Linked DNA regions of Homo sapiens. The protein of the gene in region 3 purifies or fractionates together with the protein of the main gene of each other region. This does not show direct contact. Each region holds a gene or a part of one and is shown on either strand. Other genes may lie near its edges. The genes, in order: TSC22D3, TSC22D2 and FAM117B.

Region 1 (3,658 bases), on a different chromosome or scaffold from region 3:
TGGATAAGCAAAAGAGGTATATCCATACAATGGAATTTTATTCAGCCATAAAAAGAATGAAGTACTGATATGTGCTACAACATGGATGAACTTTAAAACATGTTGAGTGAAAGAAATCAGACACAAAATATTGTATGATTCAATTTATATGAAATATCTAAATAGGCAAATCCATAGAGACAGAAAGTAGAATAGAGGTTACCAGGGGGTAGTGGGAGGGGAAAATAGGGAAACGGTGAGTTATTCTTTAATGGGTACAGAGTTTTTGTTTGGGATGATGACAAAATTTTGGGAATGATAATGGTTGCACAACATTGTTAATATACCTAATGCTACTGAATCGTACACTTAGAAATGGTTAAAATGGCAAATTTTATATCTATTTTACCACTATATATATATATGTACTATGTACAATATATGCATATAATACATCTCTCTCTTTCTCTTTCACACACACACACACACACACACACACACACTAGTAGATGTGGGGTAGGGCACCAGGCTCACTCATTGGTGAAAGGACCGGCCCCCACCTACTAGTCTCCTTGCACATGTGATTCACATCTGTGCCTCAGCAAAAACACAGTTTCTTACCAGTCTGAGTTCTCATGAAGTATCCAAACCATGAATGTTAAGTTTGCAAATGCATTTGTGCTTTTAATGGAGAAGGTCCCTTAATCCAAGAATGCCTATTCTTTGTCAGACCACTAGGCACTCAGGAAATAGTTATTTTAAATTACTTTGGGCTATGAAAGGACTTTTGAAGCTTGATACCAAAAGCAAAAATCACAAAGGCAAAGAATGACAGGCTTAACCACACAGAAACCCAAAACCGCTCTACAGCGAGTAACTCCATCCTCAAAATCAAATGGTAAATTAGTTGACAATGCGTTGCAATCTCTAATACAGGGTTTCTCACAGTGTGGTCTACATACCAGCGGTGCTCTGGGAGAGGAATTTTAGATGGTACATGGACAGAGAACTGAATCTTAAATAGTATGAACTTAGGCACTGCAGCAGGCAGCCACTCAAATCATGCCGTGTGAGTGGCCACCACCTCAGAAGCCAGGTCCAGGAATATACATTATGAAATTACTTGTTCTGAGACTCACTTAGAGAAGCACAAATAATTTTTTGCACAAATTTTTCTTGAAAACCTGATCTCTGAATCTATATCCTTCCCCTTTGTTACTATATTAATAGGGGATATTAAATGAATTAGCACACATAAAGCAATTAGAAATGTTTGCTATTTTTATCATTTTCTGAGCATTTATATATGGGAACCAGTTGGGGCCAGGTCAGAAGCTTAAAGGTAGAATCCTAGGGTTTTTAGAGCTGGAAGGGAAATCGGATTCAGAGTATTTCAGACCACACTAGCCAGGTACGCTCTGGGGTCAAAGGTAGAATAGAGCTGATTAAGAGGTTTTGGGTAAAATCTTAGAAAAAAATTTGAGGTTACAGCAACAGCAATCACAACGAATACTGTCAAAGCTCCTGTTACAGGTTGTTATACCTTACAGGTCAGAAAAATTAAGGAAGGCTCTTCAAATGTCAACTTGGGAAGCTTTTTCATATGCTACATTTAAATTGGAAACTTCTGCTGTTTGCCCAGAATATTCTATCTCCCTCCTAAGTTTTCCAGTATTAGAAGCATATTCAAATGACAAGGGGGAAGTCCCCTAACAACAGGGTGACCAACCATCCCAGTTTCCCTAGGACTGTTCCAGTTTGAGCACAGGCAGTCCTATGTCACAGGACTGGGATGGTTGGTTTCCCTACCTAATAAGGACATTTTGACCATTTGGAAAGGTTCTGAGCTCACATTTACCTCTGCTTCATAGACAATTCTTAAGTGTTACAAGAATTTCTTTAGCATTAGTTTAGTTACTGAGTGTTCTTAACAATTCTTTCTTCATAGACAATTCAGGCTCTGCTCTTCATTGTGAGGCATTGGGCAAGATACTTAATTTTTTCCAAGCCTCAATTTCCTTCTTTATAAAATGAAAATGGATGATAATAGTACCCATTTGGTCGGGCGCAGTGGCTCATGCCTGTAATCCCAGCACCTTGGGAGGCCGAGGCTGGTGGATCATTTGAGATCAGGAGATCGAGACCAGCCTGACTAATATGGTGAAACCCCATCTCTACGAAAAATACAAAAATTAGCCGAGTGTGGTGGCGTGCGCCTGTAGTCCCAGCTACTGAGGAGGCTGAGACAGGGGAATTGCTTGAACCCAGGAGGTGGAGACTGCAGTGAGCTGAGATCGTGCCACTGCACTCCAGCCTGGGCGACAGAACAAGACTCCGTCTCAAAATAAATAAATAAATAAACAAATAAATAAATAAATCCATTCCAAAGAGTTGATGTAAATATTAAATTAGATTATGCAGGTACATTGTGAATGTTCAAGAAGTGTTAGTTATTAATCTGTTATGGTTATTAGTTACATAATACAAGATTGAAAGGATGGTGTTTAAAATACACTTCTTCCCCAACCCAATTGTTTACAGGTACCATTTACATACCAACAGGCTGCATGCCCATTCTCACTGATTCGTATGTATATACACAGCACTATCAGGACTTCCATCAGGCTATGAGAGTTACTGCATGTGGTTAAAACGGAAGGAAAACAACTTTTAAACATTAATAAGGATTTTCTAGCACAGTATAAAGTTGTAAAATCTTTACAAGGGACCACGTCAATATTTAAGTAGTCATCCAACTGAAGAAACCTTTATTGAATATTGGCTGTATAACTAAAAGCCAAGGGAAAACCAAGCAAGTAAAACACAGCCCTACCCTCAAATTGCTTATACTCTTGTGTTCCAAGGAAACCAAGAACGAAGCTGGGAGCCAGGGACAGGTCAAAGCAGACAAACCAGATGTAAATCAAGAATGTGCCCTGCTCTTCTTCCTAAAAATATAGGAGCCCTCTTGGCAAAGGAATGGACTGCAGGAGGAGGGGTGGGAGACTAGCTTCTCCAGCAGGAGAGGCCTTGAAAGTTGACAAAGGAAAAAAGCACCCAACAGGAACCTGAAATGTCAAATCATTAAATTGAATAGAAGTAAAAACGATGGCTGAAGTATGATGATAGAAACCCAGGGAATTTAATGAAGTAACAAGGGATATGTTCACTTAGGAGAAGGCTGTCTACCCCAGATATTGGAGAAGCCCCATGACCAGCAATAATGGTCTTCTAGTTTGCTAATGAGCATGTCATACTGGGCAAAACCTAAACCGAATTCAGAATCCCCAGTCTCTAAGGTCCCAATTGTCAAGGAAAACAAGAGGGGATCAGTGGCTCATGCCTGTGATCCTGGCACTTTGGGAGGCTGAGGTGGGCAGGTCGCTTAAGCCCAGGAGTTTGAGACCAGCCTGCACAACATGGCAAGATCCCGTCCCTATAAAAAAAAAATACAAAAATTAGCTGGGCATGGTGGTGTGTGCCTGTAGTCCCAGCTACTTGGGAGGCTGAAGTGGGAGGATCGATGGAGCCCAGGAGTTTGAGGCTGCAGTGAGCTGTGATCATGCAACTGCACTCCAGCCTGGGTGACAGAGTGAGACCCTGTCTCAGGAAAAAAATAAATAAATAAAAATAAATAAAAGCAAGAGAATACTTTGTCCTCTTAGAACTATAAGACTGT
Region 2 (3,470 bases), on a different chromosome or scaffold from region 3:
TTTCATCTATGAACACAGCATGTCATACCAATTGTACTCCACAAAAGATATAGTTACAGTAGCACTTGTATAAAGTAATCCTTGCAACCTATGAAGGAAAGCCATACATTTAAAGGGATCTTGCTGTAGAAATTCTGTGAACTGGTACAGAAATACAGGACAAAGATGTATCCTGAAATATTGAAAAGGAGTAAATGGGGTGCAAGTATACATCACTAAATAATAAACTATTACTATTGCTAGAAAATAGAAATATGGATTATTAAGAGGCTTGAAGCAGAAGGAGGTGGGAGAAAAGGTCTGGTTTTGGATAGGCAGGAGACTTAGAAAAAAGAAGCCTGCAGGACTGACCTATGTCAAAGAATAAAAGGCTAAAGCCTAGCAAAACCTATTCTGCCTTGGGCTGTCAGTACCTACAGTGGGGGCCAGAACCTGTATTATCCTTTCCAGGGAGCAAGGAATAGATTTTAGGGAAAGGCTTTGGAATCAACATCCTAATCCTAGTCACCATAAAAGGATTCCATTTAGTTTACCTTTAGGGTAGAATTGAGAGACAGGCATAGTGACAGCAAAGGTTCCATTCCCCAACCCTTTTGTTAAATTCTTGAAATCCCTTTAAGGAAACAAAGACTTTCATTTCACAGATTTATAACTGTTGGAAGGAAAAGACCGAGTCAAACTTTCAAGTATGAGTTGGGACTCTTTAATCTTTTTTTGGAGGGACAAGAAAATAGGCAGCTGGGTGCGGTGGCTCACGCCTGTAATCCCAACACTTTGGGAGGCCCAGGCGGGCGGGGGAGATGACTTGAGGTCAGGAGTTCAAGACCAACCTGGCCAACATGGTGAAACCCTGTCTCTACTAAAAATACAAAAATTAGCCTGGCATGGTGGCACACGCCTGTAATCCCAGCTACTCAGGAGGCTGAGGCAGGAGAATCGCTTGAACCTGGGAGGCGGAGGTTGCAGTGAGCCGAGATCTTGCCACTGCACTCCAGCCTGAGCACAGCAAGACTCTGTCTCAAAAAAAAAAAAAAAGAAAAAAGAAAAAAAGAAAATAGGCACCTGATACCTGACACTGGGAATGGGATGTTCATTGTGGAGAGGAAAATGGTACAGAAAGACCCAAGACAAACTTCCTTCATGACCTTCACAAAATTGCCTATGTAATTTTGCCCTTTCATTTATTTTCCGGATTGTCATCCCTCCTAAATTATTTCTCAGCTTCCAGTTTCAGCTACTCTAACCTACCTCCCATCTGCCACTGGAATTGTGCACATCCAGCATAATTTGAGCATAGTATCCCATTGCTTAAAACCATTCAATAAATCATTCTTGCTTTCTGAATAGATGCCAAAATACTAGGTCAGTGGGGAAGTCACTGCCTGCCTGTCTCCAATGCAATTCTGTGGCTGCCCTAGGAGCCTTGTTTATACTTTTAAGCCATTGAGTTCTCTTTTCTTGTGCTTGGAACACCCTTCCCTCTGGCTCTTATGACCTTCAAGACTCAGGTGTCATGTTTTTGAGGAAACCTACCCTGACAAAACCATCCCTGACTGTACATAGTAACAAGTATTCCTCACTGCATTATCAGTTGGCTTATTATGTCCTCAAATTGTCAATTTTGAGGGCTGGGTTTTGTCCTTTTCATAGGATTATTAAAGAAATGTCACAAAGTGCTTGCCACTGAGCCATAAAGCTTCTTTTAAAAATGTGACTTCAAATCTTAAAAATTGTTTCCAGACAATTAGCTATTTCTGGTTCTGCAAAGATAAATTTTCAAGAACAGAGATATTCTGGTTCTATTAAGACTTTTTTTTTTTTTAAAAAAAGGTCCATGAATTACTGGAGTTTGCAACTTGGAGAAATATAATCATTCACCTGTGAAAATTCTTGTGAATAATGGCAGCTGTGATCCCCAGTCACTGGAGGCTTGATTATAAAACGTTATCTCAATACTTCTAATTAGCATAGGATATTATAAATAGAATTGGAAAAATTCAGCTATTTTGGACAATCAGGAGTTAAGGAAACTGTTTATTTAATGCCTCCTAACCCCTACTATTTGTTTTTGGTGTGGCAAGCTGTGAGATCACATCGGAACAAACTAAATTTTATTTGGGGAAAGTTAGGTTTGAATTGTAGACAATTACCGTATCAGAAAAATTTCTACTTATGATTTACCGGCTAAATTAAAACAGAAAAGCTTATGTGGGACCTTGCTCTATGGGCATTACACTGACAGAATTAGATAGATGGCATTCCTGTAAGACTGTGCCTCCAAATTGGGATCTCAATCAGTTAATATTTACAACTATTTGGAGCAGGAGACTAAATCTCCAAAGCTGAATTGGAAGTTACTTAAGATCCTAAACAATCAGCTGGGGGAAGGGTTGACAGTAGGGATAGTTTGGATTTTGAGGGGAGGGGATGATGGGAAAGCAGAGGGCAGACACCACAATAATTCTGCATTTTTGAACAATGGACCATGAGTTGAGTATCTTCTCCTGTCGTTACACTGGAAAGCTTATTATTTAAGGCTCTAGATACATACTGCCAAATTACTTTCTAAAAGTACACAGGAAAGCCTGTCTTTCTTTCTATGTTAAGTCCTGCTACTTAGGACACTTATTACAATTCGCCAAAAACATTAATTTGCATTTCTTAGGTTACTAGAGGTTGAACCTTTAGAAACTGCCATTTATCTCTTCTGTGAACTACCCATATTTTCTCTCCTTTTCTACTGTTTTTCTTAATATAAAAGTAGTAATAACTGCTGTTACCATTTTAAACCTTATTATTCATTTCCTTGGAGACTATTACTTTGTTTATGAAGTGTTTTTCCAGCCCCAGAATCAAAATGGAATCTATTTTCACAAAAATCCCATTTCTAAGACTAGTTTTTCTCCACCTGTATTAAATATCACATGTCACAGTTAGCACTGGAGGGGCACAGCCAGCAAACCTTTTCGGTTAACAGTCCAACAGTGAAGTTTCACATTCCATTAAGTATCTCACCTGTAGCAGCTCTACTTGGAATCTTACTACACATCCTTAGGGTTGCTTACTCAAGCCTATGTACTTAGTTCCTTGATTTATAATGTTATTCATTAACATTTTGTTCAATGTCTTGCAGCACAACTAGAATAGAAAATATTTGGCAATCTCATGTACATCCCAATTTTATGCCTTGTTTGTTTGTGGCTAATCTGATTAAATTTTTACTTCAAATAAGTCTTTTAACACGGAGAACTAACTACTGGTTCTCATTAACTCTGATTAGCTAGCTGGCTACAGATGCAGTGCATGTTAATTTCTACAGGCACCTTTCTGAATTCAAGTAAAAGTTTTGGTAGACAAGGATTTCCTACTTAAGTATCACTAACATAATATGAATATTGAGTACAAATATTGCTCACTATTTTTGCATTCTTTAAATTGTTTTACTTTGAAAATTTAAGAACTATCAGTAA
Region 3 (3,302 bases):
ACTCCGTCTCAAAAAAAAAAAAAAAAAAAAGCTGCTCCTTAATCTCACTACCACATACCCAGAAATCACATACTGATGTCATGTGATACTGGCAGTGATTTATATTAGGATGAGCCCTAATCCAAAACTGTATGGAGTTTTCAAAGGTGCTTATCGTTCATACTCAAGTTCTTCTTGTGTATTTTCCCCACTATGTGAAGCGTTAGGGGGGTAAATTAGCAAAATCTGTAGGCAACAAATCTCAGGGCCAACCACCACCACAAAGAAAAATGTCAGTCACAGGATTCTGCGGCTACAGTTTGGATCACTATCCACTGGATTACACTCCTGGCAAACTACTAGCCCAACCAAATCCACAAGACAACAACATCACAAGGGCAAAGGAGGAAATCCATGCACAGCCATTTCAGGATCTCTTTGGGGCTATGATACAGTGATGATTAAAGGTAGAATGACACCTGTGGTAAAGGAGGGAGAGCGTGTGATATATATATATATCACAGAAAACCAAAGGGGCTCCTTACTCTTAGCTAGCAATCAACGCTGGATAGCTTCCTTTTGGCTCACTGACTTTTAAATCAAGTTCCAATATGGGTGAGAACATATTAAAGCACTTGTCTTCAGACTACAACTTTTCTGACCACATGGTGAAATGTGTACAGGAGTAGTGAAGAAAACAGCAGTTATACAAATATTTCACCCAAAGCACAAACTTTTGACATCAAAAACATAAATCACATAATGTACGAATATTGCTTTTTAATCTCTTTTTATATATACTTGTTCAATGCATTTACCTATCAATCCTTGTTTGGGAGAAGAACATAGTCATGAGATTAAGATTGCTGGGAAAACGTCAACAATCCCTTTGGTCCCAAAGCTGAAAACAGCTGAGAAAAGCACACATCTAGAAAGGGAACAAGAAACAGAGGCCACCAAAGAATCTTTTGAATATCCTGTTTGCTACGTTTCAGAAAATGTAACATTGGTATATTATAAAATAGTCATTTTCATAGAAAAGATGGTTCTTGCAGCATCAGTCACATCTCCCTTTAGGAATCATGTTGGCAAGGATCAGGGGTGTGTGTGTGTGTGTGTGTGTGTGTGTGTGTGTGTGTGTGTGTGTTTTAAAGAAGTCTAATTCGAAAACAAAAACGTGATATTGTCTCTCCAAAGGTAAAGAATGAGACCTTTCTTGTTTCAATCAGTGCTTTGATAAAAAGCAGGCTAAGCACTGAGGGTTGGCGTTCACAAGTGGGGCAGAGCCGTCACGGGGGATCCTTTCTTCCAGAAGCCTCGCCGTCACATGTCACTGGAAAGCTGGAGCACATCACAGCCGACCAGAAGCGCACGATGCCATCAGAATCCAGTGATCTGAGGAGGTTCCCAATTTCCCAGAACAACAGCCACGTTGCACTGTGACCTATCCTTCAGCTTCCTCAATTGGTTCTGGTGGTGGGAGTAGAGAAGCTGATGGCATGACTGTACTTGTTCCTCGAGAGACTCGGTCTTGCTCTGTGTTTGTAGACAGGGAGGCCACAGCAATAGGCTGCAGCAGAGTGGTTGTCATGCCAGTGGTGACTGTCAGGCTGTGGCCAGAGCCCTTGAGTGTAAGATCCGGGGTAGGAAGGAGTGGCTTGAGGATGCTGACGAGGCAGAAAGCAGATCCACTTTTAGGAATGAAATTCACCTTGTTTTTGTCAGGACAATAAAAGGCTGGGATTTCATGAAGCTGTTTTGGCCTAGACATAGAACAGACAACCCAATGCTTTTAAGTCACTGAACTTAAAAAATAAAAAAAAAAAAAAGCTTGGAAACAAGCTCTTTTATTTTTTAAAAACAGTTAACTTACATCACAGAAAAGGAATATAAAACTCAAGCTCTGTCCCCCACCTTCAAACATAAAGGACCAAAGTGCTATCTGACATATGATTCAACATATGTATCTTAGAATGCAAGAAGCCCCCATCATCATTGCTGCTTTCAGTTCCCTTGACAGCCCCATTACCATGCAGGTGGCTCAGCCCGATGAGCACTGCATGTCAATGATGAGCTAAGACGGTCAAGGGAATAATGAATTTCCTATAGCAAAAGAAAATCTAGATGTTTAAAGACATGTATGCCTTTATGTATGGTATATTCCACTGCCATGATTTTTCCGAGGTCTATAGTATACTGGAAGGAGACAGCAAGGAAATTAAAGATATACAATGTCCGTCTTTTGCTAAGTTCCACCACTGCATGACTAAAACTATGGTAGGCCTGGCTTTTCTCTTCAAGTGCTTGTAAAAATCTCTTTGATGGAAACAATTCTTTGAGTTAACCCTGATAGTTTTCTGAGCAATATAATGTAAATGTGAAATCAAAATGAAAACTCCTTTGCTTTGAAAGCTTTTTATTAAAGCCAAATCCTTCCCTTTTCCTAGGTCCTCCTGAAAATTAACCCAAATTGTTGAAAAAGATATTGGTATTAATGGTATTTCATGAAAATTAAAAGTATAAAAAAACTACATTGTTAAAGCAACACAGAAATGCCACAGAACTAAGGTGGGAGAACCTAAATAAATCAAGACTTAGGTTGATTCTCATCTCTTCCAATGACAATAAAAATCTAAATCAGCCAGCCATGGTGGTTCACACCTGTAATTTCAGCACTTTGGGAGTCTGAGCGGGGAGGCTTACTTGAACCCAGGAGTTCCAGACCAGCCTGGGCAACATAGTGAGACCTCGTCTTTATAAAAACCTTAAAAAAAAAAATAATCTAGTCTGACGGCATGCACCTGTAGTCCCTGCTACCTGGGAGGCTGAGGTGGGAGGATAGCTTGGCCCTGGGAGGTGGAGGTTGTACTGAGCCATAATCGGGCCACTGCACTCCAGCCTGGACAGCAGAGCAAGACCCTGTCTCACACACACACAAAAAATCTAAATCAGTTCAATAAAAATGCAAGTGTTCACTAAATTCTGAGGATACAAAGTTGAAACAATCCACAAGGAGGAGGTGGACTAAATTTATAGTTCTTGTGGGGTGAGGAGTGATGGGGACAGAGCTGTGTTTCAACATAACTAGCTTCCTTTATAATCTTGTGTATATGATGCATTTAAAACATTATTCAGAGAAGGGATCCACAAGCTTTACCACACAGACTGCCAAAGCTGTCCACAGCACAGAAGAGGTTAAGACCGCCACAAGAGAATCTAACAGGCATGATTACAGAGGTTTATAAAAAGGTTTACAGGTAGCACAAGGGGGTGGATAACCTGTGGCCTGTAGGAAGAGGGAGGGTTTGGTAGTAACCCTCTGA

Evidence for each region.
Region 1: the proteins of FAM117B (region 3) and TSC22D3 purify together in Homo sapiens (affinity purification with mass spectrometry; 2 studies listed by BioGRID and IntAct, with this or other methods). This does not show direct contact.
Region 2: the proteins of FAM117B (region 3) and TSC22D2 purify together in Homo sapiens (affinity purification with mass spectrometry; 2 studies listed by BioGRID and IntAct, with this or other methods). This does not show direct contact.

Annotation. Positions count from the first base shown.
Region 1 is NC_000023.11:107,769,265-107,772,922, forward strand, and holds part of TSC22D3 (TSC22 domain family protein 3), read right to left. Parts: intron 1-3,658. UniProt on the Homo sapiens protein: Protects T-cells from IL2 deprivation-induced apoptosis through the inhibition of FOXO3A transcriptional activity that leads to the down-regulation of the pro-apoptotic factor BCL2L11.
Region 2 is NC_000003.12:150,460,205-150,463,674, reverse strand, and holds part of TSC22D2 (TSC22 domain family protein 2), read right to left. Parts: 3' UTR 1-3,470. UniProt on the Homo sapiens protein: Reduces the level of nuclear PKM isoform M2 which results in repression of cyclin CCND1 transcription and reduced cell growth.
Region 3 is NC_000002.12:202,763,886-202,767,187, reverse strand, and holds part of FAM117B (protein FAM117B), read right to left. Parts: intron 1,743-3,302; coding exon 1,424-1,742; 3' UTR 1-1,423.